Linked DNA regions of Homo sapiens: regions 1, 2, 3, 5, 6 and 7 are each linked to region 4. The links come from fine-mapping of genetic effects on gene expression. A gene starts in region 4. Each other region holds a variant in brackets. All regions are shown on one strand. Distances are from middle to middle. Region 1 overlaps CHST11 (carbohydrate sulfotransferase 11). Region 2 has its middle 170 kb from the start of MIR3922. Region 3 overlaps CHST11 (carbohydrate sulfotransferase 11). Region 4 holds the start of CHST11 (carbohydrate sulfotransferase 11). Region 5 overlaps CHST11 (carbohydrate sulfotransferase 11). Region 6 overlaps CHST11 (carbohydrate sulfotransferase 11). Region 7 overlaps CHST11 (carbohydrate sulfotransferase 11).

Evidence for each region.
Region 1: its variant is fine-mapped to the expression of CHST11 in pancreas (GTEx, PIP above 0.99).
Region 2: its variant is fine-mapped to the expression of CHST11 in lymphoblastoid cells (GTEx, PIP 0.90).
Region 3: its variant is fine-mapped to the expression of CHST11 in sigmoid colon (GTEx, PIP above 0.99).
Region 5: its variant is fine-mapped to the expression of CHST11 in whole blood (TOPMed, PIP above 0.99).
Region 6: its variant is fine-mapped to the expression of CHST11 in whole blood (TOPMed, PIP 0.96).
Region 7: its variant is fine-mapped to the expression of CHST11 in lung (TOPMed, PIP above 0.99).

What each region holds. Positions count from the first base shown.
Region 1 is chr12:104,490,882-104,494,958 of GRCh38, reverse strand. The region is part of intron 1 of CHST11 (carbohydrate sulfotransferase 11); the gene reads right to left. Among named protein-coding and RNA genes, the nearest start is that of CHST11, 36 kb to the right of the region's middle. RefSeq lists enhancers at 682-871, 1,494-1,663 and a silencer at 2,748-2,951. The variant C/T (reference allele first, on the strand shown) is at 2,353.
Region 2 is chr12:104,764,525-104,768,601 of GRCh38, reverse strand. No RefSeq gene overlaps it. Among named protein-coding and RNA genes, the nearest start is that of MIR3922, 170 kb to the right of the region's middle. The variant T/C (reference allele first, on the strand shown) is at 2,058.
Region 3 is chr12:104,662,884-104,666,960 of GRCh38, reverse strand. All of the region lies in intron 2 of CHST11 (carbohydrate sulfotransferase 11), which reads right to left. Among named protein-coding and RNA genes, the nearest start is that of MIR3922, 73 kb to the right of the region's middle. The variant C/T (reference allele first, on the strand shown) is at 2,356.
Region 4 is chr12:104,455,011-104,459,010 of GRCh38, reverse strand. It overlaps CHST11 (carbohydrate sulfotransferase 11), which reads right to left and starts at 2,063. Exons shown (of 3, transcript NM_018413.6): 1 at 1,482-2,063. The coding sequence starts at 1,599. RefSeq lists silencers at 525-584, 745-884, 1,475-1,754, 1,795-1,964, 2,045-2,174 and enhancers at 1,275-1,324, 2,245-2,324, 2,345-2,394.
Region 5 is chr12:104,685,533-104,689,609 of GRCh38, reverse strand. The region is part of intron 2 of CHST11 (carbohydrate sulfotransferase 11); the gene reads right to left. Among named protein-coding and RNA genes, the nearest start is that of MIR3922, 96 kb to the right of the region's middle. RefSeq lists a silencer at 1,472-1,667. The variant G/T (reference allele first, on the strand shown) is at 1,692.
Region 6 is chr12:104,758,283-104,762,359 of GRCh38, reverse strand. It overlaps CHST11 (carbohydrate sulfotransferase 11), which reads right to left. Exons shown (of 3, transcript NM_018413.6): 3 at 346-4,077. Among named protein-coding and RNA genes, the nearest start is that of MIR3922, 170 kb to the right of the region's middle. The variant A/G (reference allele first, on the strand shown) is at 1,990.
Region 7 is chr12:104,479,939-104,484,011 of GRCh38, reverse strand. All of the region lies in intron 1 of CHST11 (carbohydrate sulfotransferase 11), which reads right to left. Among named protein-coding and RNA genes, the nearest start is that of CHST11, 25 kb to the right of the region's middle. RefSeq lists an enhancer at 580-1,080. The variant G/A (reference allele first, on the strand shown) is at 1,797.

The sequences.
Region 1 (4,077 bases), 36 kb before region 4:
GCTTAGTGGGTACAGCATGTCAGTTTCGCAAAACAAAAAAGTTCTGGAGATCTGTTGCACAACAGTATGAATATACTTACCACTGCTGACCCGTACTCTTAAAAAGGATTAAAATGGTAAAGTTTACATTGTGCTTTTTTAACCACAATTTTACATTTTTAAAATTATTTTTAAAAATCTACCCACAAAACAAAACACCCTGAATTGTTTAAGTGTTTTACAAAATGAACTCTAGATGCCTCCGAGTCAATCAGTGAGCCCGCACCCCACCCCACAGTTATTATTCTGAATTCGTGGTGACTTACAGAGCTAATACGCCTACGACATTGTTCTGAGAAGCGCTGGAACCCATCCTCGGCAGTCAGCTGCTAGCAAGAGGATCAAGATCAGAGAAGTTTTGTGAAGTTAACTTTAAAAGGAATATTCTGACTTAGAACGGATTCTATTTTAATGCTTTGAGACAAAAATCCTTCCCCTGGGAAACTGCCTCCAACTCACTTGTCACATCCTCAGAAGTGGAGACCCTGTTTTTCATTTCTGAGATGTTATCACTGAGACATTCAAATAAGAGCAGTGTTGAAGAACAGTGACATGTGATGTGGTGGCTTTAAGGCAGTGACGGGCTATAGACACTAAGAGGCCAAGGCCAGAGGGGTCAGCTCACAAGCTCACAAGCTCCTGCCTTTGCTTCGTGGTGCAGGCTCTGTCTCTCATCGGCACGGCATCTCTTCAGAGGGGATCTCCTTGGAGATTTGGGGAAATCAGCTCAATTTTGTCACCCAGCCTGTAGTCCCAAGTCCTCGTGACTGTGGATGGGCCAGGAATGTGGCTTCACATACAGACATCTTGTTAGGCCAGGCACGGTGGCTCACACTATAATCCCAACACTTTGGGAGGCCAAGGCAGAAGGCTTGCTTGAGCCCGGAAATTCAAGACCAGCCTGGACAATACAGTGAGATCTCAAAAGATTACCCAGGCATGGTGGTGTGTGTGTTTAGTCCCAGCTACTTGGGAGGCTGGGGTGGGAAGATCACTTGAGCCCAAGAGATGGAGGCTGCAGTGAGCCAAGATGGTGCCACTGCACTTCAGCCTGGGTGACAGAGCAAGACCCAGTCTCAAAAAACAAAACCGAACACCCTGCTGCTGCACATGTGATACCACAGGCAGCATCACACCCACTGATGAAATGTGTCCGAAGGGACGGCCCTCCACAAACTGTAAATGTGTCTTTCTACATCCAAGTCTCTCTTGTCTTTCCGTGCCTACCAGGGTGAGTCACTTTGAGCATTTGCCTGAGCCAGAGTTGAGGGAAGGGTAGAGACGGCAAGGAAGGAAGCTTTGATGGAACGCCTTCAGGCCTTCAAACTCTCCCTCCATTTCCCACTTCTGAGGCATTTGACACACATTCGCATACACTATTTCCACCCCTCTCACCAGGACATGTCCAAAGCCACTGGATTAGAAGCCACAAAATGTACTTCATTCACCAACGAACCCTCAGCACCTGGCACCTCATAGGTGCTCTGTTAAGGGAATGACAGGTGTACTTCAAGAACACCTATGTCTATTAAAGAGCAAATTAAGTAGCCCAAGGCCTACCTGGTTCCAGGGCAAAAACATTCTCTTCCACATCCATCATCTGATGAGAAAGCAATAAACATCTTGCCACATTACTGGATACCAGCTCCAAGGTAAACACTAGGATCAGCGGCTCCTGCCTGAATGTGAATGGCTGAGGCCATCTGCATTGCTTGCAAACCACTGAGCCATCGTGCACCATTTCCATTAGTTTTATTTCACTTTCCGATCTTTTTTTGGTCAAAAACATCTGACCTCACTGACAGTAGGAAACACAGCTATAGGTAAGTGTGCATTTCATTTCCACTTCATTTTCCTCAGTTACGTCCTGGATTTTTTTTTTTTCCTGAGACTGGGTCTTGCTCTGTTGCCCAGGCTGGAGTGCACTGGTGTGATCTCGGCTCACTGCAACCTCCGCCTCCCGGGTTCAAGAAATTCTCCTGCCTCAGCCTCCTGAGTAGCTAGGATTACAGGTGGACACCACCATACCCGGCTAATTTTTGTATTTTTTAGTAGAGACGGGGTTTCACCATGTTGGTCAGGCTGGTCTCAAACTGCTGACCTCGTGATCTGCCCGCCTCGGTCTCCCAAAATGCTAGGATTACAGGCGTGAGCCACCGCACCCGGACACATCCTGGATTCTTATTACTAAAACCTTAATCAGCTCAACTGATGTCATGTCCCATGGTAGTATCTTCAAACTGTATCTTGTTCCAGACACACAGATCAATAGCCAAAAGTGTAATCTTAAAAAGGGATCCTATTCTTTACTTG[C/T]AACTTCCAAAGGGCATTAAAAGGGATTTATTCATTTATTTAGTCAACAGTAATATTTACTAAGATTTTACTTTAGAGCAGGCAGGCACTGGGGTATGTGCCAGAGACACATAGTGAGGGGCAGAGAGACAGAAGTTCTGGCCTCAGGAACTTCTATTCTGGTTCGGGGAAATGGATGATAACAAGGAAAAAGAAGAAAGAAGCTAATTTTCAGAGAGTGATACATGCCTTTAAAATAAATAAAACACTTTGGGAGGTGGAGGCAGGCAGATCACAAGGTCAGGAGATCAAGACCATCCTGGCTAACACAGTGAAACCCCATCTCTACTAAAAATACAAAAAATTAGCTGGGTGTAGTGGTGGGTGCCCATAGTCCCAGTTACTCAGGAGGCTGAGGCAGGAGAACGGCATGAACCCAGGAGGTGGAGCTTGCAGTGAGCAGAGATCGCGCCACTGCACTCCAGCCTGGGTGACAGAGCGAGACTCCATCTCTAAATAAATAAATAAAACAGAGTGACATGGTAAGAGGAGATTCTTTGGACTGGTTGGTCAGAAGAGGTGTCTCCAAGGAGGTATACGAGCTAAGACTGACTGATGGAAATCACACAGCCTTTGGGAAGAACAGCAGGTGCAAATGACCTGAGGCAGTTTTAGAGACAGGAGGAAGATCCACATGGCTGGAGCACAGCAAGTGAGGCTGCAGGTGGTAGGGGGCAGGTCACAATGTTGAGCAAGGATTCAGTCTTGAAGAGTCTTGTGGGCCCCAGTGAGTGGTGGGAATTTCAACCCAAGTGCAATGGGAAGTGCTGAAGTGTTTTGAGAAGGGTACTGGCCGAGTATAGTAGCTCACACCTGTAATTCCAACACTTTGGGAGGATGAGACAGGAGGATCACTTGAGGCCAGGAGTTTGAGACTAGCCTGGGAACATAGCAAGACACTGTCTCTATTGAAAAAAAATTTCTTTTTTCAATTAGCCAGGTGTGGTGGCACAAACCTGTAGTCCTAGCTACTAGGGAAGCAGAGGCAGGAGGACCACTTGAGCCTGGGAGTTCAAGGCTGCTGTGAGCCAAGATCATACCACTGCACTCCACCCTGGGCAACAGAAACAGATCCCCATAATACTAAAAAAAAAGAAAAGAAAAGAAGAAGAAGAAGAAGAAGAGACTAAGGTAAAGTGGTTCTTGTTTCTGAAAATCTCATTCAGACTGCTACATAAAGAATAGATCATGGGGGGCACAGGGAGATAACTTTTATTATATAGATTTTACTTATACACTCTTGCTAAATTATCCTGTCCATCCCACCCCCGGTCACTCTCAGAAAACTCCAGATCAAATGAGATGAGTATGGTGAATAGGGCTGGCAATTAGAGGATACTCTCCAATGGTGATGAAGGGAGATGTCTGGGGGAAATCCAGCAGGATGTTGATTTAGTATGTACACAGTGAGAGGATACTTGTAGAGAACCTAGAATCTTCTCTGAATGTGACGGGCCCTCAGAGATAATTGTTAACAGATAAGTGGATGATTAAATACACTTCCTCCAGTAGGCTAGATGTTAAGACGGAGATCAAAAAAAAAAAAGCCAGAGACCTCCCCTGCCACCCAGCACAGCACCTGTTCCACAGCAGGGGCTCTGAAGTTGGAGAGAGAGAAGTGAAATGTGAGCAAAATGACAGGCTATGCCAAAGATCGCCCTGTGTTTTTCTCTTTGAAGGATGGTC
Region 2 (4,077 bases), 310 kb before region 4:
CTAGCTAAGGTCAGGTTTCTCTGCCAAGTGAGCTTGCTGCAAATCTATGAAAAAACATTTCGTTTTCAGAGTTTTGTGGATTTCAGAACTGCAGATAAAGGGATGTGAAATCATTATATTTGGGCCACTGCTAAGTCACAGAGCTTTTGTGCAAATTTGACAATTCATTTTCTGGGTGGGTACAGCTTTTGGGCCCATAACTTGGCAAGTGGGGTAAGAAAAAGGCATCCAGTCCTTCAGAGTAAATGACAAATGTCAACCCCATCTTGGGCCTACCTTTGTGCAGTGCACAGCCTGCACAACCAGACACAGTGGACCTGATCATACACATCTCAGGGTTGCTGGAAGAGTAAACAGTAATGAAACATGACCCCATCTCCCAAAGCCACAGCTTCTCCTCAGGCTCTCTCTTGTGCTTAGACAGGGGCTTCTCAAATGTGAAGCATGTGAATCACCTGGGGAGATTGCTAAAATGCAGGAAGGCTGGTGTGGGGCCTGAAACACTGGGTTTCTAGCAAGCTCCCAGGTAATTTCCATGTTGCTGGTCTACAAATCACACTTTGAGTAGTAAGGCTCTAGAACCACTCCAACTTCTCCTGGATGTTTTACCTGAACCTTAATTCAGCATGTCTCATAGTTAACTGAGAGCCTTCCCCAAAACCTGTTTCTGCTCCTAATTAACTGATCTCCAATAATGGCCCCACTATCCAGCTATGGTTGCTCAAACTCAATTCGTGGCAATCCTCCTTCCCTTCTTATTTCCCTCTTCCTCACCTACATTTCCATTCAGTTACTAAAAGACATAGGTTCTATCCCAAATTAATATTTCTCCAATGTAGGGCTTTCCAGTCTCAGCATTACTGACATTGTGAACTGAGCAAGTTTTTGTTGTGGGGATCTATCCATAGGAAGGCAAAATCATTCCTGGTTGGGAGCCACTGTTCCAAACCCTCAACTTTTCTCCATCTCTCTAGCTACTGACTTGCATCACTTCTTTCCCAAGGGGAATTTGGTGTTTTGTCTTCATGCATGTGTCAACTATCCCATAACTACCCGTTAACATTTCTATGTTGTCCACTTATGAATCTTAAGAATTCGCATATTCTTGGCATCTTGCACAGGGGCTGACATAGGCAGATGCTTAATATATGTTTGCACAGATGAAGGAATGAATGTATCTCTTGACAGCTGCAGGTCCCTGGGGCTGAGATGGAGGAGGGGAAGTTGGGGAAGCTCAGAGCTCTCAGCTTACAGAGTAAGGCCTAGGGCTGTGTGCAGGGTGCTACCACGCAGAGGGAACTCTGTAGAAGAGACATCCAAAGGTGCCCTAAGACACTCCCACCTGCCATGGAGTCTCTTTCTCTTACCCTATTTTTGTCTGCCTTTCTGTTCTGCTTGGAAATGTCCTTCATTTGGGCCAAATGACTCCAGTCCCACTGCTGCTTGCCCAAGTGCATTGCATGGCAGTGTTGCTGTGTGTACAGCTGCTTGAACACAACCTTTACCCTGAATGGCTGCCCTTGGAACTTGATTTGGGGCTATGTTGGAACCTTAGGCTGGCTTGTTCTGTTAGAGCATCAGAATACTTATGGCTTGTTCTTTCCATTCAGCAGTCTCACAGCTCCCTCTGAGACCCTGATTTGAATTTCACTTTGCCATTCATTGGCTTTTATTGGAAGTCCAAGCTTTCTAAACAGTTTGTCCAAATTTGATGTTCATCAGTCCAGTAGGTTTTCCAAGCTTTTGCCAACTGGGCTAAAGTTTTCATCTCTATCCATGTCTCTTTGTAGCACCATTGGCTTCCAGGTTTAGACTTCTGGCCTCCTCCACTCTTGGTCCACCAATAACGCCCAATTTTAGTGGGCTGGAGAGTCAACCAGACCTGGATCTGAATTCTGGGTAACTTGAGGCAAGTTATTTATTCTAATTTTCTGCATCTTTATGTGTATATTAGTCCATTCTCATGCTGCTAATAAAGACATACCCAAGACTGGGTAATTTATAAAGGAAAGAGGTTTGATGGACCCAGTTCTACATGGCTGGGGAGGCCTCACAAT[T/C]ATGGGCAAAGGGACATCTTACATGGTGGCAGGCAAGAGAGAATGAGAGCCATGTGAAAGGGGAAACTTCCTAAAAACCATCAGATCTCGTGAGACTTATTCACTAACATGAGAACGGTATGTGGGAAACTGCCCCCGTGATTCAGTGATCTCCCACCAGGTCCCTCCCACAACATGTGGGAATTATGGGAGCTACAATTCAAGATGATATTTGGGTGGGGACACAGCCAAACCATATCAATCTGTAAAAAGGGTCCCAGTATCTACCTTGTTTGTTGTTTGTGAGGATTAAATTGAAAGCATGTAACACACTGTGTGGCATATAATAAACTAATAGTTAATAAAAGTTAGCTACCTTTATGGTCAGCTTTCCCTATGAAAAGATAGAATTTGGAAAAGAGCACATTAAAAGCAAACATTTCCAAGGCACCCACAGTTGAGTTTGTGTTCACTGTGCAAAGAAGCTCAGCATAAAGGTATAATTTCTATAGTCAGAGTTCCTTCTTCCTTCATCTCTTCTTTAGGCATTTTTTTTCTCTATCCTTTTGCCAGTTTGGTTCCGGGCACAAAGTTGTTTCTGGCTTGATCTATCAGATAAAGCCCAAGGCTGGTCCTAGCCACAAAATAATCTTCTCTAGCTGCTGCTGGCTTGTCCAAACCAACGTGAAATCCAAAGCCCTTACTCTTCTCCCATAATGAGATGCTCTATTATTTTTAAAAACAAACTTGGAGCCGGGTGTGGTGGCTCATGCCTATAATGCCAGCACTTTGGGAGGCCAAGGCGGGAGGATCACGAGGTCAGGAGATCGAGACTATCCTGGCTAACATGGTGAAACCCCGTCTCTACTAAAAAAAAAAAAAAGAAAAATTAGCCAGGCATGGTGGCAGGCACCTGTAGTCCCAGCTACTCGGGAGGCTGAGGCAGGAGAATGGCGGGAACCTGAGAGGTGGAGCTTGCAGTGAGCCAAGATTGCGCCACTGCACTCCAGCCTGGGTGATAGAGTGAGACTCCATCTCAAAAAAACAAAACGAAACAAAAAAGAAAAACAAAACAAAACCATGGAAAAATAAAAAGCAGATTAATACAGAGACTGTTTTTCATTCCAGTCTCTTGTATTTCAAATTAATAGGGTTTTGTACAAAGGTGGAGCCTGTGTTTCCATGGTAGAGCATTTGGAAAGAGGAGTGTAAATTTCGGTTCCCATCTTGAATCTAGCTATGAGCTATTTCTTTGCTGCATCAGCTTTTACGTTTTTTTTTTTTAAATAATTTCTATTGTTGCATCTTAATCTCTGTCTAACGCCATCCCCTTAACTCCCTTCTCAAAGCAGTTTTTACCTGCGTGGTACCATCTAACTGGTCAATCTCTTAGGCATAAAGCAGCAGAAGCCACAGAGGAGGATTCAGGTAGATCATTAGTCAAACAGGAAAGGCTCAGAGGTCACGTAACTTACTGCTTCTCAAACTGTTTTCCTTAGAACCCTATGGCCCGTGATGGTTTACAGGGACTTTATGGGAAAAAGGCAGAGCTGGGCCTCAAACCATTCAATCACAGCATCTCTGCCTCATCTGTTTTACATATGAGTGTTCAGAATGCAAAAATTTTTAAGAGGCTCATTTTTAAAAACCGCATTGAAAACCACAGATATAGCTCAATTCTTTTGTTCCGCAGATGAGGAAATGTAAGTCCCCTCCCTGCATAGGAAGTAATTACCTGTAGGTTGCAGACAGCTCCTTGGTGGATGAACTGCAGCTAGGAAAGGGTTTTCAGTCGTGGCACAATCCAGATATTATTGTTTTCCCTATTTCAAAGAGGAAGTGACTACGGGAGTTTGTTTGGGAATGGTTCTCAGCCAGCAACGCATTTGGAACCAGCAGGCTGCCTCCACTCACAACCTCTGGCTGTTTTCTCCACCTGTGGGTTCTTACAATTTGGGGAAGAGGCGGGTGCTGGTGAAGATTGTGAAATAGGGAAAAGGTGGTTGTTTTTCTCATATCAGCCTTGCTAGAATGTTCCTTT
Region 3 (4,077 bases), 210 kb before region 4:
ACACTGGCAGGAGTGTGATGCAGACAGAGTCCTGGCCAGCTACCCTGGGCATAGTTTTGGGGGATGGCAAGGGGCAACGACTTATCTGTTCTGGCTCACTCCAGACCCCACCGCACACGGTACTGTAGAACGGTGAAAAAAGGGGTTATCAGACCTTGCCCCGCCTCTCTGATGAGGTACCTGATCCCAGCTCTACTGTTCCACACAGGACTTCCCTAGCTTCTCCTTCTCTCCCTTCCCTTTCCTTCCATCTTTTTTCAATCAGGAAACATTTGTTGGCCATCCACTGTATTTCAGAGTAAATCTGTATTTCAGGCATGTGGAGCCTTGGATACTGAATTTGAATACCAATGCAGCAGGACACTGGTATTATTCCATCCCATTTTATTCTTCCATCATCGCACCCTCTAGAATTCAACACGCAGACAGAGGCAAACGAGTTGCAAAAACACAGAGTCCCAAGAACAACGGAAGGAAATTGGATAGTCCTATCTTAATAAAATCTTGCTTTGGCAAAGCAGAATTCAAGGTAAAGGGGACTACAAAAGCCTGCCCACGTTTCACAATAACCCCAATCTTCTGTATTGCATTTTGGAAAACAAATAAAAATCTTTATTAAATTTCTCCATTCTCGCTTGCATCCAAAGTTGAATTGTTTTGGAAAGCTTGAGGGAAACAGTTCAGGTGTTTTTCAGGGACAGAAAACCTATACCCGTGATCATTTCAAATGCTAAGCATATTCTAAACCCCTACCAAACAGAACTTGCAATTAGTAGCAATTTAAATAAAGTATTCAATCTTAATTCTATACATGATAGTCTAAATAAGATTAAAAGAGAAAGAGGCCGGGTGCGGTGGCTCACACCTGTAATCCCAGCACTTTGGGAGGCCGAGGCGGGCGAATCATGAGGTCGGGAGATCAAGACCATCCTGGCCAACATGGTGAAACCCCATCTCTATTAAAATACAAAACATTAGCTGGGCATGGTGACGGGCACCTGTAATCCCAGCTACTCGGGAGGCTGAGGCAGGAGAATCACTTCAACCTGGAAGGCAGAGGTTGCAGTGAGCCGAGATCGCGCCACTGCGGTCCAGCCTGGTGACAGAGCAAGATTCCGTCTCAAAAAAAAAAAAAAAAAAAAAAAAAAGAGACAGAGAGAGAGAAAGAGAAAGGGAAAGAAAAAAGAAAGACCCCCACCCCCCACCCCACAAATCATGGACATTTGCTTGGCATCCAGAGAAAATTCCAAGTATGTTGTTTCAAATTTAAATGCAGAGTGTTCAAGTTTTCAATAGGCATAAAAAGTTAAAAATTAGAAATACAACTACTTACATTTATTGAACATGATGTACCCGATGCTGTGCAAAGCACTTTAGGTTGATGAACTAAGTTAATACTCAGAACCGCCCTGTGAGTAGTCATTATGATCCCAAGTTTACAGATGAGGAAAAAGAGATTCAGCTGTGATTCACACCTAGGCAGCGTGACCCCAGGATTTGCACTTGTCACTGTTACATTCAACTACCTCCATGCAGATGGCACAGTTTGAAACAAGACTTTCTGGACTATGATACATTTGTAAACGTTTTTAAGACTAGACTCTCTTCTTTTCTTCCATGCTGCTCCTTGCTCCTCCCAAAGTTCTGTTTCCCCTCAAATCCTGAGATGAGTGCTATTAGTATGCTGGCCTTTTATAGATGTAAAAATAAGCCCAGAGTAGGACAGTGACATAACCAAGGCCACACAGTACATAATAAATGGGGTAGAATCAGATCTCAGAGTCAGGCCTTTCGATCCCAAATCTCAAGGTTATTCTCATACATCTGCTATTCATCCAAGAGTGACCAGATTACCTAGAGAGGTGAAAGTGGGAAGAGGTTGGATGATGAAAGTTTATGGAGTTACCCCCTGAGTCTGCTAGCACAAGGTGAGGCACTCAGGCAGAGCACAGAGCCACTCTCTCTTCCTGAATAGCCCGGGTGTTGGCCACATTCATTACTGTAATTAACCCTCGAGGTTTGCCTCCGGGTTGAGGTTATTAAATATATTTTGGTATCTTTAAAAAAGCACATACAGCAAGTTCCATAAATTTAATAAATGGGCCTACATTGGTGACATGGAAATGTTTCCATGAAACAGTTCTTGCAATTTCATAACCGGCTCGTGTAAAACTTTAGGATGTCACTTAGGCCCATTGGAGGAATTATTTCCTTATAAATCTATGGTAGTCTTAGGAAGTCAAAATGGCACCATAAAAAGAAATAACCCCACTTCCCTGGAAAAAGGGCAGCATGCTCTGTCCGAGGAGGGGACTGGGGCTGTCTGCACTTGTAACATTTTACAGTGACTGTTGC[C/T]GGCATGGGCAGCATGCTCTGTCTGAGGAGGGACTGGGGCTGTTTGCACTTGTAACATTTCACAGTGACTGTTGCTGGCATCCAGTGAGGATGTATGCTGTTGCTGGGCTGGGCTGTGTGTTATATTTTACTGGCAAAAATAAATCTTACATTTTTACATAAAGCCGTGCTTCTCTAGAACACACCAAGAGAAAATGTGTCTAAACCTTAACAAAAAGGCCTTGCTGTCTCTCAAAGACCTAAGAAGACCACACTTAGAAAAATAAAGTCTTAAGTAATCAAAGAACATTTTTGTTAGCATCCTCATTTTTCTTTGATCGATGACATACATAAGAGTTGTGTTGAGAAACAGCTTTTTAAAAATGTTCCCGCCGCTTCACCCTCAGCTCTAAAATTCAGTTCACCTCGTGGTCTCCCTGAGTATTAGGCTACAGGCACAGTCAGCATTTCGCGGTTTATAGAAGAGAGGTGATATACAGTTCCTACCCTTGAGATGCCTCCACTGTAAAGGGAGGAATTATCTGCTAGATAGCTCGCTGGAAGTAATCAACTCCATAGTGAAGAAATAAGATGGAGGTCCCTATCTCATGTCCAGGGCAGATGGAAGTTCTGGATGGAGACTGGTACCCTAGTGGACAGGGGCTGCTGAAATTATGTATCTGTGTTTTTATCAGCAGACACAATGCCTGGCACAGCCTAATTGCTCCATACATGGATGGATGGATGGATGGATGAACAGATGGATGGGTGGAAGAAAGGGAACAAGAATAACAAAGTCACCCTTGGGAACTTGTTAATAAAGTACCTTAAATGGGCTAAAGAAAGGGGGAAGGGCATTCTTATTATGTCAGTGCCCTTGAAATGACATTAAAGCGACCCAAACAGAAATGCACAGCTCTCTACAACGGCACAATGCACTTGGGCAAACCATTCCTAGTAAGATTTTTTTAAATTAGGGTTGGTCTGTATGAGCCCCCTTTGAACACCAGTCTAAGCAAAGCAGTTGAATGTTATGGAGAAAAACTGCTCAAAAATGACACATGAATAAAAACAGGTTACCAAACAATATAAGCTAGGAGTATTCATTTTTTAAAAAATACAAACATGAATATCAGAGAAAAAGTCTGGAAAGATATTTATCAAAATTGTTAGCAATGATTATCTCTGGGTGGTGGATTTGCTGGTGATTTTTACCTTATTCATTTGACTTGCATTTATTTTCTATACTTTCTATACTAAACAAGTATTTGTCTCATACCTACAAAAAAAAGTTTAAAAATTGCAAGAAATCTCTGATGATGCCAGAGAAGAAAAAGTATTCACAAAACAAACCCACTGAAATCAACCTTAGCGAAATCACAGATTCAGTAGAACGTCACGAGATGGAAGTCGCACGGAGGTGAGGATGGAGTAGGTTAGACAGGGCTCGCCCAGGCCTCTGGAAGGAAGCCTTGTTGCACTGACCCAACACAGGCCAGCCTGCTGGATCCTCCCGGGTGCTCCCTAGTCTTTGGCCCAATCCCTCGGGGCACTCCCCATTTTTCTAGGGGAACAGTTGGTGTTTGTTTTTCCTTTGTCTGTGGTGAGGAACAGCTGTACAAACCAAATCACATTAAATAAATTAGTGGCACCTGAGTGGGCTCCGTGGCACAATTTCTAATTCACACAATGCCTCCAGTTTTGCTATTTCAACTAAATCATTTATCAATTCCTTCACGGAGG
Region 4 (4,000 bases):
AACAACTGCTCCAGACCGAGTGGGGCAAAGGGGCCGTCTGTCCCTGCGCTGTCAAGGAATCTGCAGCCTGCAGCCCTGCCTGTTTGATGGAAAGAACAGCTTTATTCCTCTGCCATCGACCCAAACGCAGGCTTGATGAATTCGGGACTGCGTCTGTTTAAAGTGTTAGATACACAGTGAAAGGAGAAGGCGGGAGGCAAAAATGAAAAACACCAACCCCACTTCCCTGGAAGGAAATGCGTTTCCACCTCCCTCCTCCTTGCAATTAGAAAAGCAAATTATTGCTGTGACTACGCTGAGAAAGGCAACTCGGAGGCGTAGAAAATGGATTTCTGAGCCAACGTGGCCCGGCAGGGGGCTGCTAAGGGAGGGTAAAAGGGAGCAGGGGAGCCACGGCTTGGCGGGGAGACCCGCGTTACCCGGAAGGCTTCTCGGAACGTTCTACCTGTTGGGCTTCGCAGCCGAGCTGCTCACCCCCGGCCGCCGCGCTCGAGGGCGCCCCTCCCTCTCCAGAACCCAAACTTTCCCTCGCACCCCTAGGAAGCGACGAGCCTCGTCCCTCCCCCAGTCCAGATTTCGGACGTGGAACTTTGCCTGAGCCACAAGGGACCGGAGGAATGGGGTTCATTCCCACGCCGCCCGGGGGATTCCCGTTGCTCGGATCCCAGAAGTGGGGGATGCAAACGGACGGTCAGCCCAGGACCTGGCCAAAGTTTCCTCCAAAACTGCAGTGGTCAAGGCGTGACCCAGGAGCTCGGAGTTTCCAGCTCAGGGCTGGGGGCTGGAGCAGGCCCCGGGGCACCAGCCGCAAGGTCACTGCGGAGCCGGACCCCGGGGGCAAACGGCCGGCGCGTGGTGGAGGGGCAACGCTGGGCACCCGACCACTCTCCACACCTGCTCAGCTCTGCGCGGAGCCCGGGACACGTGGGAGCCCAGTCCCGGGCTCCCAGCCTGCTGCAGGGACTCGCAACCTCGCCGGGGCGTACACCCTTCGCCCCCGGCCCGGCAACCAGGAAGAGGCGGCTCGCCCGGGCGCAGAGCAGCCGGCTCCGGGTAACTCTTTCATCCTCCGACCTCGGCAGCAGCAGGGAGGGAGTTTCGTTCTCCTCAAACCAGCCCCTCACCCCCGGTTGCTTCCCACACCTCTCCGTTTCCCTGCTACCTCGCAGACAGACAGACAAGGGACACAAAGAAAAAAAGAAGAAGAAAAAAAAAAAAAAAAAAACTACCGCCCCTCCTGGTCCCATCCTCCAGCCCGGAGCCGGTAGGAAGAAGAGGGCGAAGCACACCTTCCCTTCTCCTCCCCATCCCGACGCGGTGACCCGGGTAGATCTGGGCAGCCAGGAGCTCTGGGCAGCCAGGAGCCCCGAAGAGGCCGAAGGCGGAGAGGTAGGGTTGGAAGAGGCAGAAATCAGGCGGAGCGAGCTAGAGCGCGAGAGAGAAGAAAATATCCAACAAAACCACGCTAACGCGCCCCCTACCTGGGTGCAACATACTTTGGAAATAGAAGATGACCAGGATAAAGGATCCCAAGCAAGTGGCCAGCACCATCCGGCAGATTCTGTTCATCCTCATCACTTCCAGCAGCGCTGGCTTCATGGCTTTGTCCTGGCTGCGGGGACCGGGGTGTCCGGGAAGCGCGCCCGGGGCGCAGGAGCAGGGACCCCGCCGCGCGGACCGGAGCCCGGGAGGCGCGGGGCAGAGCTGAGCAAGGCTCAGAGGGAGGATCGGAGTCGCTTCGCGGCCGCTCTCGGAGCCCCCAGCCCGGGCAGGGGTGTGGAAGGTGCCGGAGTTGGTCTGGAAGTGCTGAGATGCGTGGACCCGCTGGCTGCGCGCTCCTGCTCCTCCTCCTCGCCGCTCCGCCGCCTCCTCCGATCCCGCCGGCGGCCGCCGCTGCCTGGTCGCGGGCCGGGCGGCTGGGGTGCGAGCGGTGATGGTGGTGCCGCCGCCGCTGCCGCTGCGCTGGCCGCTGTGGCTGTCCGACGGGCCCTCTCCCTTCTCTCCAAAGGCTACTTCATTGCGCTCCAACGATCTATATATTCCGGGGCTGGGTTTTACCAAATGCAACTCGCGGCCCCCGGCGAGGGGAGGGCGCCTGCGGAGAGCCGGGAGGAGGGAGGGACCCTAGCGCCGGGGCGGAGCGTCGCGCTCCCCCCGCCCCTACCCGGGATATGGTCGCGTCCAGCTGTTGCCCGGGGAGTGCGGTGTGCGCGCCGCGCTCCCGCAGGGTCCCAAAAGCCCTCAGTCCCCGGCCGGGCTCGGCCGCCGTCTGGAGGTTGTGTCAGCGTTTCCATGACAAAACCCGGAGGAAAAAAAGACGAAGAAAATCGCCTCGGTGCTGCCACCCACCCCCGCCAGCGTTTGGAGAGGGAAGTGGCAAGCAGCGGGCTGGGTCTCGGAGGGAAGAATTAAGGGTTAGGGGGTTTCTGGTGGCTGGCAATTATTTAAAATCCCTGGGCGACGTAGCGGGGAAGTTGCCCCAAACCCCCAGGGAGCGAGTGCCCATTTTCCGACGCTCAGAACTGGGCGGTTTCGTTTTTCTTTCAAAGGACAGCCCAGCTTGGGAGTCGGGGTTAAAGAGGGCTGACTTAAAGTCAGGGTTAAGGAAACTGCACGACCCTCGGGTCAGGCGACAGCTGAGCTTTCCCGGGGACTTATACAGACAGAATCTCTGACACCCACCATCACCACCATTCCTCAAGGCAAAAGGGATCTGTGGGTTGCAAAACTCTGCTACCCCAAAGGGTAGAGCATCCTCCAAATTATTCAAAATTAACAGCAGTCTTAGCTGGGAGGGGGTGAGAAAATGCCCCTAGGAAGCCACCTCAACCAAGTCCAGAAAACTGCTGGAAAAGCCAAGCCAGCCATAGCACTGGCAGGTACATGGAAAGATGGTGCTGCTTTCTTGTATTGTGTAGAATGACTTCCAGTTTCCAATTCCATGCATTTAGGCTGTTTCACAATCAATAAAGTGGACACAGCCAATAGTGTAGGGATCACTCGTATGTCAGGGAAAAAAAAAATGTTAGTTAGACTAACCTTTGTGCCTTATCAAGTCATTACTAATTCAATTAAAAATGAAATAAGATACTGTGTCTTTCAATGCCTCTCACAAAATAGGCATTTGATAAATTCTTATTGAATCTGAATGTAATGGGCCTTATCCTCCCCTCGATAGACAGAGACACAACTTGCAGTTAGACACATGCAACAAAAACCACCTGGGCAACCTCAGTTCCCTTCCCCCAGAGTTCTCCTCCAGCAGTTGCATGGTGGGGAAAGTAACAAACTCAGCAGCCTTGCCTTTGATTACAGAAGACAATCAAAGCACAATATTTATGTAGCCGGTGTGCGCTGTATTAATTTGGACTTACCTGTGAATAAGTTGCTTGCTCAAGGAAGCCAGGCTGAACAAGCTTCAGACAGAGTCGTTCTCCAGTGATTCTTCTGCTCTGGTGATAGGAGATCAGGAATGGGAGTTGCACTGCACCCTCCCCACCTCCCCACCATCATCACTAAGAAAGGGGATTCCTTGCAGAGGGCATGGCTTAGATGGGCATTTGCACAAAGCCTTTGCCTGGAATATAAGTCTCTCATTTAACACTTGGCTTTACAGAGCCAGGGAGGGGAAGGGATTTACTCCCAGGTCACCCAAGTGACCTCTCACCTCATAGGCCAAAGACTTCAGTTACCTGCCCCAAAGCCTGGACATGCACAAGGCAGTTTGGGAAGTCACAGGGTCAAGGAAGAGATCAGAAGTCCAATTCCCTGTGAGTCACAGAGATCATGGAGTTGGCCCACATGGTGGGGGAGGATGGTGAATCATGCCCAACATCCATTCTTGCATTCCCACAATCAGGAACCTGCCCAAACACAGTGAGGATTAAGGCTGTGACACATAAGCTACCACCTCTCCCAAGAAGTCTTTGCTGTTTTCTCACCTGAAATTGCAACTTTCCTCCTCTGCGCTGTGAGCACTAGGTCCAAACCTCTTTTGGGC
Region 5 (4,077 bases), 230 kb before region 4:
AAGGCAGCATCTACCACAGTGCCTGGCAAGGAGAAGAATCACATAAATGTAGTTGCAATGATTAATCACGTAATTATAGTAAGTGCATGATACAAGGTTGCTGAATGAATGCATGAAAGAGAATTCAAAAGGACTTGCTCACCTCGTCTCAGCCTCACAGCTGCTGGGAAGTATGTTCTGCCCCATCTTCAACAGAGCATAACACACAAACGAGGGTCTCAGGCGTCTGCCTGCTATGGGATAGAACAGCCATTGGGCCTATCCTTGGCCATGGAAAAAGCTTCCACTGTATTTCGATTGGAAGCAAGCATGTCCACCTGAGGAGGCAGCAGGCGATTTATGGCCCTGAGGTTTCAGGTTGGGTAGGAAGGGATTCTGGCTGAGGCCAAGGTTTATTTTGGTCTTAAAAATTTCTTTTCCTAATCCTTACTCATTGCAGGCAGCTTGGAAGGAAAATGAGAAAGTCACAAAAGAATGAAGAACATCACAATAGACCATAACACCTAAAGGAAATACTGTTAATATTTTGACATTTGTCCTAGAAATGTTCTTTCACGAATGTGTGTATATAGAAAGAATTGTATCATATAATACTTATATTAAAAAGTCTACTATTTTTATTTAACAATAGCTTGTCTCCTTCACCTCCTCCTCTTGCTCCTTCTTGCCCCTTCTTGCCCAGGCTGGTCTCGAACTCCTGGGCTCAAGCCATCCTCCTGCCTCAACCTCCTGAGGAGCTGGGCCTGCAGGCTCATCACCATGCCCAGTAGCAATGGCTTGTAACTGACATCTTCCCATGTCCATAAACTTTATGCTACAACATCATCTTAAGGGCTCTATACATTTTCCTTATATGGCTGTGACAGAATATACTTAACCACACCCCTATTTTGGTTACTGTCTAGTTCCAATTTTTTGTTATTAGAAATAATACCTGTGTGAACATCCTTAAGGATCCTTAACATTTTATTTTTCACATATTTCTGAAGATTATCTTGAGAATATCTTACAGGTTTTTAAATACACGTTTCAGGTTGATGTTTTAACATTAATTTATGTTTCTAGCAAAACAAGTGAGAGGAAGAAGCAATTTATTCAGAAGACTTCCCAATACGTCAATCTAGCCCTATAGTTCAGTAGGCTCAGGGGCTCTTGAGCCTTGCTATCTGGGGCCACATCTCATTTTACCACCTACTGGCTCAGGGACTAGTGGTGAGTTACTTCTCCTTGCCTCGGTCTTCCCATCTATAAAATGGGTGGAGTGGCGCCCACCAGACAGGGTTGCTGTGAAGGTTCAACTTGTCAATCTAGACGGAAAGCATTTGTGATCAAGGATCAGAACAAGAGCTCCAGGAATCTGTCAGTACCCACCCTAACAGCAAGCTATTCATCCAGAGTTAAAATCCCACAGCAACAGTCACCTGAACACTTGTATCTCATTTTAAAATGGTCCCTATTGTTTTCCTCTGCTGCAACAGCCTGGCGTTCTTAACGCGCACACAGGGATGCCAATTTCCAGCCACACAAATGACCACATCTTTGCGTTTTCTAAGAATCAGAAGGCCCATCTGATGCCATGCAGGGAAGTGATGCACAGAAAACACAACCACACTGTTGCCAAATTCAAGTGTGAACCACACACTGGCTGAGAGCAGGAAACACAGAATAACAACCGCCACCCTCACCCAACG[G/T]CATTAAACTGTGAAATGCTGGTACGGTATGAAAACAGCTTCCCTTGTACCAGAAAACTGCATCTGGAGTATTTCTCCAGGAAATATTGTTGGTGTTACTAAAATCCAAAGCTGCAAAGGGAAAAAAAAATTTTGGGGGGGGCGGGGGCCGCTGTTTGAAACAGGATCATTCTAGGCAGGAAAGGCCATTTCTTTAAAAAAGAATCTTGAGCTAAACTGGCCTTGACATCTATCTTCTCATTTCAACTCGTAGTACCTCCTCACTTCCCAGAACCTCCTCACTGCCCAGGTCTTTGGGAAGTACCTCCTCACTGCCCAGGTCTTTGTCTAAAGACTACCCTGGAATCAAATCCTTGCCTCTGGCTTCCCAGCTATGACTATGGGCAAATTCTTAAGCTCTTTGGCCTCTTTCTTCATCTGTAAAATAAGGGCTACTGCAGCATCTACTTAATGCAGTGGTTGGACGGTGAGATGAGATAACTCAGGTAAAGCGCTTCACATGGTGTGTGGTACATAGTAAGTGCTCAATAAATGAGAACCATTGTTATTAACCATCACTATTGCTGTATTGTCCAGGATTTATACACATTTACTTAGTGCCTCTGATGTGTAAGGTGCTTTTACGAATTCAGTCAACAACCCTTGGCTTGACCACCCAAATGAGAACAAGGTGTAAAGCACTTGGATGCTAAAAAAACAAAATAGTTCCAGAAGAGCTGGTGAGGGGCATGGGCCCTGCTGACTGCCCAGTGCAACTTCTGAATCCTAGGCCCTATTGCAACCACTCTTAGCACTTGGCAAGGCCAGAAAGGTTGCTGTGTTAACTGTAGGTTTGTGGCATCTATACAGAAGGACCATGAGCCTTGGCAGTTGGGACCTGCACAATGCTCAAACCAATCCCTGTAGAGAGAGAGAGATGCAAACTGATCCAAAATATACAATTTTAAAACAAAACAAAAAGAAACAAGAATGGCCAGGTGTGGTGGCTCACACCTGTAATCCCAGCACTTTGGGAGGCTGAGGTGGGTGGATCACCTGAGGTCAGGAGTTTGAGACCAGCCTGACCAACGTGGTGAAACCCTGCTTCTGCTAAATACAAAAAAATTAGCCAGGCGTGGTGGCGGGTGCCTGTAGTCCCAGCTACTTGGGAGGCTGAGGCAGGAGAATTGCTTGAGCCTGGGAGGCGGAGGTTACGGTGAGCTGAGATCGCGCCACTGCACTCCAGCCTGGGCAACAAGAATGAAACTCCGTCTCCAACCAAACAAACAAAACAAATAAATAAAATAAACCAGAACAACAACAAACTAAAGGCTCTACTTAGCAGTTACTTTGTAACTTTTGATACAGTAGCAGCCACAGTTGCAAATCTTGTCCAGAAGTCCTACAATTTTAAATAAATAGCCAACAGGAAGTGACACATAGTAACTGAATTTGTGTGGGCCTAGTACCAGATTCAAGTTTCTCATCCTTTATTCCAGCAATCATCAACCAACTTTCTAGTCTTTACTGTCTTCTGCACCTGAGTGAGCAGAGGACTCTCTCTCAGAGCACAGCTGTCCCACATTCTGGCACCTGGAATCAGTCAGCCAAGCGCTGGATCAGCGGCTAAGCAGCTGTCCATTAGACTCCTAGGAAAAGTCAGGTCAACCCTATGAATCACTATGTTGTCTTTTTTTTTTTTTTTTTAAGAGGTGAGTTCTCCCTTTGTGATCACGTTGAAGTGCAGTGGTGGGACCATAGTTCACTATAGCCTCCAAACTCGGGCTCCAGCGATTCTCCTGCCTCAGGCTTCTGAGTAGCTAGGACTACGGGTATGCACCACCATGCCCAGCTAATTTTTTAAAAATGTTTTCGTAGAGATGAGGGTCTCACTAAGGCTGCCTAGGCTGGTCTCAAACTCCTGGCCTCAAGTGGTCCTCCCACTTTGAACTCCTAAAGTGTTGTGATTATTGGTGTAAGCCACTGTGCCCAGCCTATAGAAATGTTTTGCACGAATTTCTGGAACCATCAGAAAACACCAGAGTCTGCCAGAGAAGTCCCCAAATAGCACAGGAATAAATGGCATAAAATATTAATAATTCATGTCTCAGCAAGGGAATAGGCAGAGAACACATGTTCAGCACCAGCAGTGCCAGGAGCTGTTATTTTGACCTAACTTGCTCCAAATGAAAGTCCAGACACAATCTCTCACACAAAATTCTTCACCGGCTCAACCATAACAAGAATAGTCCCTAATAGCATTTATTAAGTGCTATTATGTGCCAAGCACCCCACATACATTAAACATATAATCCTCACAGTAGTCCTACAGGCAAGTGTTCATCTAGGTGATGGAAATGGAGCTCAACTAGGCTGAGAGACTTGCCTGAGGTCACACATTTAATGA
Region 6 (4,077 bases), 300 kb before region 4:
ACCTGGGCTTGAATACTGGCTCTGCCACCAAAGCCATTTACTGACAGCCTTCATGCCTTTTCACACGAGTGGTGGAACTGTGTGATCACAGTGCACCTTCTAATGCATTAGTCTACAAAGACTTTATAGAAAAAATGGAAAGAAGAAAAGCTTCCATTCACCCGATGAACAGAAAGAATTTGGATCTATGGCGGTTTTTACCAGGGCTGAGTCTTCCAACGAAGCCTGCATCTCCATCCTTTGATACACATGAGCAGGGCCCCCCGCATGCTAAGGTCCACGGCCCACCCCACCCCTACAGTCTTTTGTTAATGAGCCATGAGCAAACCATACACAGAAAGCAGCTTCTTTTTTCTTCAATTTAATTGAAGTTACTTAGAAAAATAATCAGGCTTGAATGGCTTTTCCTGGAGGAAGGTTCATGAACATTTTCACGCTTTTGTTGGCAATGTGGAATTCAGCTTTCTTTAACAGTACAGCAAGATACAGGGAGCGTTTTCTACAACAGGCTCTCTACTGCATACAAATATGTGAAAAAAGAAAATCACACTCCACAAAGATGTGACATTACATGTCCATATGCCATACTGAGCATGCTCATAAGAAAGTAGTATGGGCAGCTCCTTCTGGACCTAACAAAGTGTAGCAGACTGAAATTTGCCTGTTATCAGCCAAGGGTTAAGCGGATTCTAGAAGGCCTTGTTGCCTGTAGGGTTCTAACTGGTTGTGATGGAAAAAGGTTGGAGGAAATGCTGGTGGTGGGAACTCGGGGGAGTGATGTGGTCAGTCCTGCTGACATAGAGGTGGGCAAGGAAGGGATTTGGTCACTGGGATTGCACAGAATGGCGCAGCTGAGATTGTGTGTGTGTGTGTGTGTGTGTGTGTGTGTGTGTGTAGGGGAGGACTGGCTAGGAAAGCAAGCAGAGTGCCTCTGCTTCTTCTGCCAACTCTATCTCAGCACTGATCCAGACCCCACCAGCCAAGCATTTGTGGGACCCGCACACTTTGCTCTGGAGCTTTCTAGTAGCCTGGATTAATCGACCCCTGTGCTTCATGCCTTTGCCACCAGGAGAACCAGTGCAACTGAAGTTTCCACTGCCTGCTGCTCTCCTGTGGCATCCACATCCTGAATAGGCAGGAGGGTGCAGCCCACCTGGTGCACAGGGAGGAGGAGGAACGTCCCCTCTGAGATACCACAGGTCAGCAGACCACCTCTTCCCAGACCAGCTGGGGAGGGCAGGGAGGCGGGGTCTGGAGGAGCTGCGGGAATCATCTAGAGCTTTCCAACCAAAGGGATAAAGTAAGCAGGAATGTCCTTGCAAATACTGCCCTGGCTGTACCTGGTCTTTAAAACACAGCAGCACCTTTGAGAAGTGGCTGGGAGATGGGACGCCTGCCTGTACTTTTCTCCAGCTAAGCATGCATAGAAAGCAGTTTCAAATATTCCTCTTTAAAAAACACAAACTTTCATTTTCCAGGCACACTTCACAAGTGGATTTCTTTAACCAAGGACACAGAATACTTTCTACATTCTGCAAAAACAGTTGAATCCATTTTTTTTAAAGTTTCAATGCCATTAGAAAAGAAAATGTGAACACAAAGCAAAACACGGGGAGAAAGAGTCCCTCATTCCAGAAACCTATTGATGTCATGTCCCCTGAAGGACAATCTTTCTCACTTAAGAGAGAGAAGCCAGATGAAAGGCCATCTTCACATGACAGTGAGCAGGCTTGCACAACTGACCAAAGACGGACACAGAAATGCAAAGCAACGTGAATTTCCATTGAAAACCCCCCAAAAAGCACACAGTGAACGATTCCAAACTATGAAACTGAAGAAGCACTCATCAAGAGATCATCTGTTCCCACTGAGCATCCTTTTGAGCCTGAGGAGTAGGGAGCCACCCTGGGCCCTATACCCCACTCACCCTCTCCTCTCTTCCTTCTGTCCACACCACCCAAGACTTCCTCCACTCCCTCTGGGAGGGAT[A/G]GAATTGTAGTCCGTGGCAGTATCCAGGATTAGAACCATTGCTTCATTAAATAAAGTACCTCTGTTGCTATAAACCAGATGGAGACTGTGGTGCTATTTTGTATTTTTTTTTTAATGGAAGGGTGTTGGGGTGGCAGTTTTTATCCTTGAAGACCTCAGATATGCTAAGTCAACCTAAGCAAAGTATACTCGGTGGAACCCTAGCTCTGTGGGGTGATCTGCAAAATAGAGTATCCTGGTCATGTAAGTTCAGGAAATGCTACAGACTCAAGGATTATTTTTGGGGATTCACCATGCACAGCACACATTGAAGGCTGAAAAGTCCTTGCAGAAAGGAAACTGACTTAACTTTGTTTCTTAAGGATATTTGACCACAAAACCCTTAGTCTGCATCACACCAACCTGATGCCTCCTGGAACCTGTGTTCTGTAGAATGCGTATTAGAAAATGTTGGACAACCTGTTTCATTATCAGAAGTCCCATTTCTGAGGACAGTGTTCTCTGCCTGGAAATAAGGTCCAGATTCTCAATTCCAGGGACAGCCAAGGTCTGTCACTCTACCCAGTAAAACACATTGCGTAAATCTCCATCCATCAAGGGTATAGTTGCTGCGCCCTTCACAAAGGGGAGAGAGCTCGGAAGAAGGTACACAACGTTTTATAAATAGCTTCAGCTACCTTCTCCGGCCCACATCTCACTCACGTTAAATAAAATAATTTCCCCGGTGAGATGTTGCAGCTGCTGCCCACTGAGCTTGCTGTGAGCTTTACAATACAATCTTAATAGTTTCTGTGAATAAATTATTCAATTTTTGTTTGTTTAGAATATCCTCACCCCTTCACTATATACGGCATCAAAAACAAAACAAAAGGCAAAACTTACCCACACCCCATCCCACCCTCCCCTATTATTAAAACTATTATTATTATTATATACAGTAGCTGCTACCAACTCATTCACTAGCTGTAAGAGGGATGTGGCTCAAACTTCAACTGAGAAGCATCAGCAATGGCTGGAAATGAGAAGCATGTTTAGATGTTAATTAGCAAGGAACAGGAAATGAAAAGTTTCCAGGCTTCCAGAGGAAATGGGGCATGGATTATGGAAGGCTGTCCTTGCTGCTCATGCATGGCAGTTACCAAGATGCTGATAGTCTTTCAGCCTCTGGAGGACGTGAGAGGGTGTGCATGTGTGTATGTGTACAAATAGTCCACCTCTGACCTTCATGAGGGGTAAAAACCATTGCAAATCCCCAAGTGTACGAGTCTCACCTTGGCATTTCACACTTGTACGTGGCAAGCAGTAGAAGACAACACTTCTACATGGGGATGTGGTGCTAGGCTGAATGGAGATGACAGTAGGAGGCACTTGAGGAGTGTTCCCCTTTCCTCACCCAAGGCAGACATTGCTAATCAACCACAGCACTCTTCCACACTGTGCCTGGAGAATCCATTCTGGGGCTTAAAGGCAGACATTACCCATCAGTTGGAGCAGGCACATGATAGGACACATTTTTTTAGCATCTTTTCTGTTGGTCAGTGAGCTTGGGATCACTCACGAATATAAAGTGGCCTGCTCCGAATGTGAGGTTTTCAAATATGGGCCATAGAAAAATGTAAATTTGTAGGGGTCATGGACCTTCTGCTGTTGCTCATGAATAGTCCAAACCTCATGTCAAGTCCATGAATAATATCAGGGGTTTGCTAATTGTCGAGCTGGATGCTCTATGTCACATAAAGCTTTTTGAGGGCCAAGACTATTGGGTTTGTTCAACGCTCTATCTTCAGGGCCTAGTATATAGTAGATGCTCAATAAATATTTGTCGAATATAAAGCAATAGCCACTTCACCTTCACTGCAACTGGCACCGCCAGTTTAAAATTCCTGTTAAAAAAGCCTATTCTATCAGATTGCTAATTCTGGTGAAAAATTGTTACAACCAACTTTCTCCTTGGGTTAAAAAAAAATCACATTTCTTTAGTGCAAGGGACTTTCAGGTCGATTGGAATTGGTTTGGAATGAGTCCCTTGCAAAGATGACTCTAAGTGCAATAGCAACCTACTTATTTCTAGCAGAAATTCAAGAATGG
Region 7 (4,073 bases), 25 kb before region 4:
TCGCAGACAGTAGTAGAAACAAACAGACTGTAGAGTCAAGCAGGCCCAGGTTCAGATCCTCCCTGACCCCAGCAGCAGACCCTCTACTTGCAGAAGCTACAGAGACTACGTCCCCACCTTTGCCTCCAGCCTCCTCCACCAGGCCAGCTTCAACAGCAGGTAAGAAGAGCCACAGTCCTCCCCGACCCCAGGCCTCACCTGGGTCATTCATCTACTCATCTGTTCCTTTCACTCACCCAATAAACAAACTCACTAAGGGGGCGTACTGAGGAATAAGTACACGTGGAGCTTGTGGAGCAGAATACTGAAGAAGAGACATAAAACAAACTCAGGTACCCCTTACTCTCCAAAAGCAGGAACCAAAGAGATGCAGGTAACATTGGGGAGTTTGTATCTGAACTCTCTTCTCTTATTATCCAAAATTGGCAGGCTGAATGAATCACATCCTGAGGGATTGCTGCATGGACAAATGGAGTGCAATGAAAAAAAGTCAAAGTGCATGGGGAGGCCGGGCACGGTGGCTCACGCCTGTAATCCCAGCACTTTGAGAGGCCGAGGCAGGCCGATCACCTGAGGTCAGGAGTTCAAGACCAGCTTGGCCAACATGGCAAAATCCTGTCTCTACTAAAAATACAAAAATTAGCCGGGCATGGTGGCTGGCACCTGTAATCCCAGCTACTCGAGAGGCTGAGGCAGAAGAATCTCTTGAACCCAGGAAGCAGAGGTTGCAGTGAGCTGAGATCACGTCACTGCACTCCAGTCTGGGCGACAGAGCAAGACTCCATCTCAACAAAAAACAACCAAATGCATGGGGAGAGACTGTAACCAAGGGACCTGCCTTCAGGAACTGGGATGTGAAGGGTGTGGAGAATGGATGGGGTGTGAAGGGTGAGCATGTGAAGATGCAGGAGTCCAGTTTTGGAGATATTGCACCAGGAGGCATGTGGGTATCAATGAACTACATGAAAGGATGTCCAAGTTGTTCTTAAGTAGAGCCAAGGTTAGAAACCTTGAATCTGTGGTGACCCGAATCAGCACTGTTTCAGACAGGATGACTTTCTCCCATGCTGACTCCGGGCCAAGTCTATGAGAACCACCATCTGTTCCAAAAAGTAAGCAGAGACTTCAGACGTGAAGCCACTAAAAGACAGAAGAAGTGGGGACATTTTTAAGACATTAAAGTCTTAAGTGGGGGGATGCACAGACTCTGGAGTGAGTTGGGACCGAGTTGAAATCTGCAACCTTGGGTAAGTGGAATGAGTTCTCTGAGCTGCTGTCTTTGTCCAGGTAACATGTACCTTATGAGGCCGTTGTGAGAATTTGAGGCAATGTGTGTGAAGCTCCGGGCACACACTAGGTCCTCCATAATTGTCAGCTCTTATTACAACAACTCCTACCTTGCTCAAAGGACCAAAATCTTGTCTCATCGATCTAAGCAAGCAGAACCACGTTGGAGTTCTGTGAGCCTTTCCTCTGTGGGAAAAGCCAAAATGACACTGAGGGTGGGGAAAGGGAAGGGAGGCAGTGGCCACATGGTCTAGGAAAGTGGTGAGCCCACTTGCCTAAAAAATAAAGCCATGTGGATGTAAAGGATGTGCCTAAACTTAAAAGAAGTAAACACCAGCTGCCCATTTGACATGGCCTCCTTTCATTTTTGCGGGGGGGGGCTCCCTGTTTGATGTGGCTCTGGGGCCCAGCAGCCCCAGGTGGCAGAGCAGCCTCCACTGGCTCGTAAATACCCAGGGTTACCCCAGATGACACACCGTCTTCAGCAAAGAGAAGGGATGGGGGAAGGC[G/A]AAAGGAAGGCAGAAGGTAGTGAGGAATAGGAAAAAAAAAAAGAGCCATACATTCTTTATATCAGCAACAATCTATCCAAAAATAAAATCAAGAAAACAATCCTGGGGAGGCTGAGGTGGGTGGATCGCTTGAGGTCAGGAGTTTGAAACCAGCCTGGCCAACATGGTGAAACCCTGTCTCTACTAAAAAATATATATATATACAATAAAATTAGCCAGGCATTGTGGCGGGTTCCTGTAATCCCAGCTACTCGGGAGGCTGAGGCAGGAGAATTGCTTGAACATGGGAGGTGGAGGCTGCAGTGAGCCAAGATCATACCATTGCACTCCAGCCTGGGCAACAAGAACAAAACTCCAAAAAAAAAAAATGCAAGAGAAAGGAAGGAAAAGAGGGACGGAGGGAGGGAGAGAGGAAGGAAGGAAGGAAGGAAGGAAAGAAGGAAGGAAACAGTCCTATTTACAATAACATCAAAAAGATATTCTTTTTTCAAGTCATAGACGAGTAAATACTCTGTTCACTTGGATGAGACATTTAGGTATCAGAAACCCCAAAGCCCTCTCCAAAAATGCCTTCCCTTTCTTAGCCAATCTTTGCCATATCTGATATCGTTGCCCCCCATCGACGCGTGAGAGAATCCATGACCGCTCCCTACAGAAGGAAGCCACCAGCTGGAACAGTGGGCTCAGGTGACTGCACCCAGGTTTGGTTTTTGAAACCATTTCTTTCAGTGGCTTAAAAAGCTGGGCCAAATTCTAAAAATTGTAAAGTATGACAGTAGATTACTTTTTTTAAGTGATAACTTATTCCAGCGCACCCAACTGGGAAGGCCAATACGAGGAAGCAACATTAAACGGGACCTGAAGGAAAAGCACGCCAAGCACAGGGAACGGCAAGTGCAAAATTCGTGACGTGGCAAGAGTGTGGTGCTCATAAGGCACTGAAAGAAGGCAGAGTGGCGCAAGTCCAGCTGGGCAGGGGAACAAGGAAGTGGGACCAGGCAGGCCTCAGTGAGGCGGGACCTTGAAGTCAGGCTAAGGATTTGGGTTTCTCTTCTGGGTGCAATGAGAAGTCATGAAAGGCTGTACCTTTGCAGTGTTACAGCAGAGCAGAAAGGCAGCTCTCTTCCCATTTCATAGCTGGAAAGTACGGCACAGAGAGGTTAAGTGACCTCTGCTGAGTCACATCCCGGCACAGGGGTGAAGCTAAGAAGCCACATCCCCTGACTCCAACTGGAAAGAATCCCTACTGGGTCAAGGCAAGAAATGTGTTCCTTCAGACTGCAGTATTTTCCCAGGACTGCTATAACAAAGTGCCACAAACTTGGTGGCTTAATACAATAGAAATGTATTCCTTCATGGTTCTGGAGACCACAAGTCCAAAATCAAGATGTTGGCAGGCCCATCCATGCCCTCTCTGAGGCCTCTAGAGAAGGATCCTTTCTTGTTTCTTCCAGCTTCTGGTGGCTCCTGGCATTCCTTGGCTCATGGCAGCATCAATCCAGTCTCTGCCTCCATTATCACACGGTCTTATGTGTGTTTCTGTGTCTCTTCTCCTCTTATAATAAGGACGCTAGTCATATTGGATTAAGGGCACACTGTCCTCTAATATGACTTCATCTTTTTTTTTTTTTTTTTTTTGAGATGGAATCTTGCTCTGTAGCCCAGGCTGGGGTGCAGTGGCACGATCTCAGCTCACTGCAACCTCCGCCTCCCAGGTTTAAGCAATTCTCCTGCCTCAGCCTCCTGAGTAGCTGGGATTACAGGCACCCGCCACCATGCCCAGCTAATTTTTTGTATTTTTTAGTAGAGACGGGGTTTCACCATCTTGGCCAGGCTGGTCTCAAACTCCTGACCTCGTGATCCACCCACCTCAGCCTCCCAAAGTGCTGGGATTACAGGTGGGAGCCACTGCACCTGGTTGACTTCATCTTAACTAACTATATTTGCAATGCCCCTATTTCCAAGTCAAGTCACATTCTGAGGTTCCAGGAAGAACATGAATTTGGAGGGGGGGGCGGGGACACTATCAACTCAGTGCACTGACTAAGCAGATGTTTATGAAAGATAGGCCTGAATTCAACAGGGGCTCAGAGCACTGACCAACTAAAGTATAGAACCTTTTGCAGCAGAACTCCTGGTTGACCCCCAATATCCATTCTCTGTCTTCCTTTAGAATAAAGAAAACACAAGTTTAGCACATGACCACACGGAATGAAGACTACCTTTCCCAGCCTCCCCCACAGACATAAATGGCTGGAGCTAAGTGAGATTTAAGCA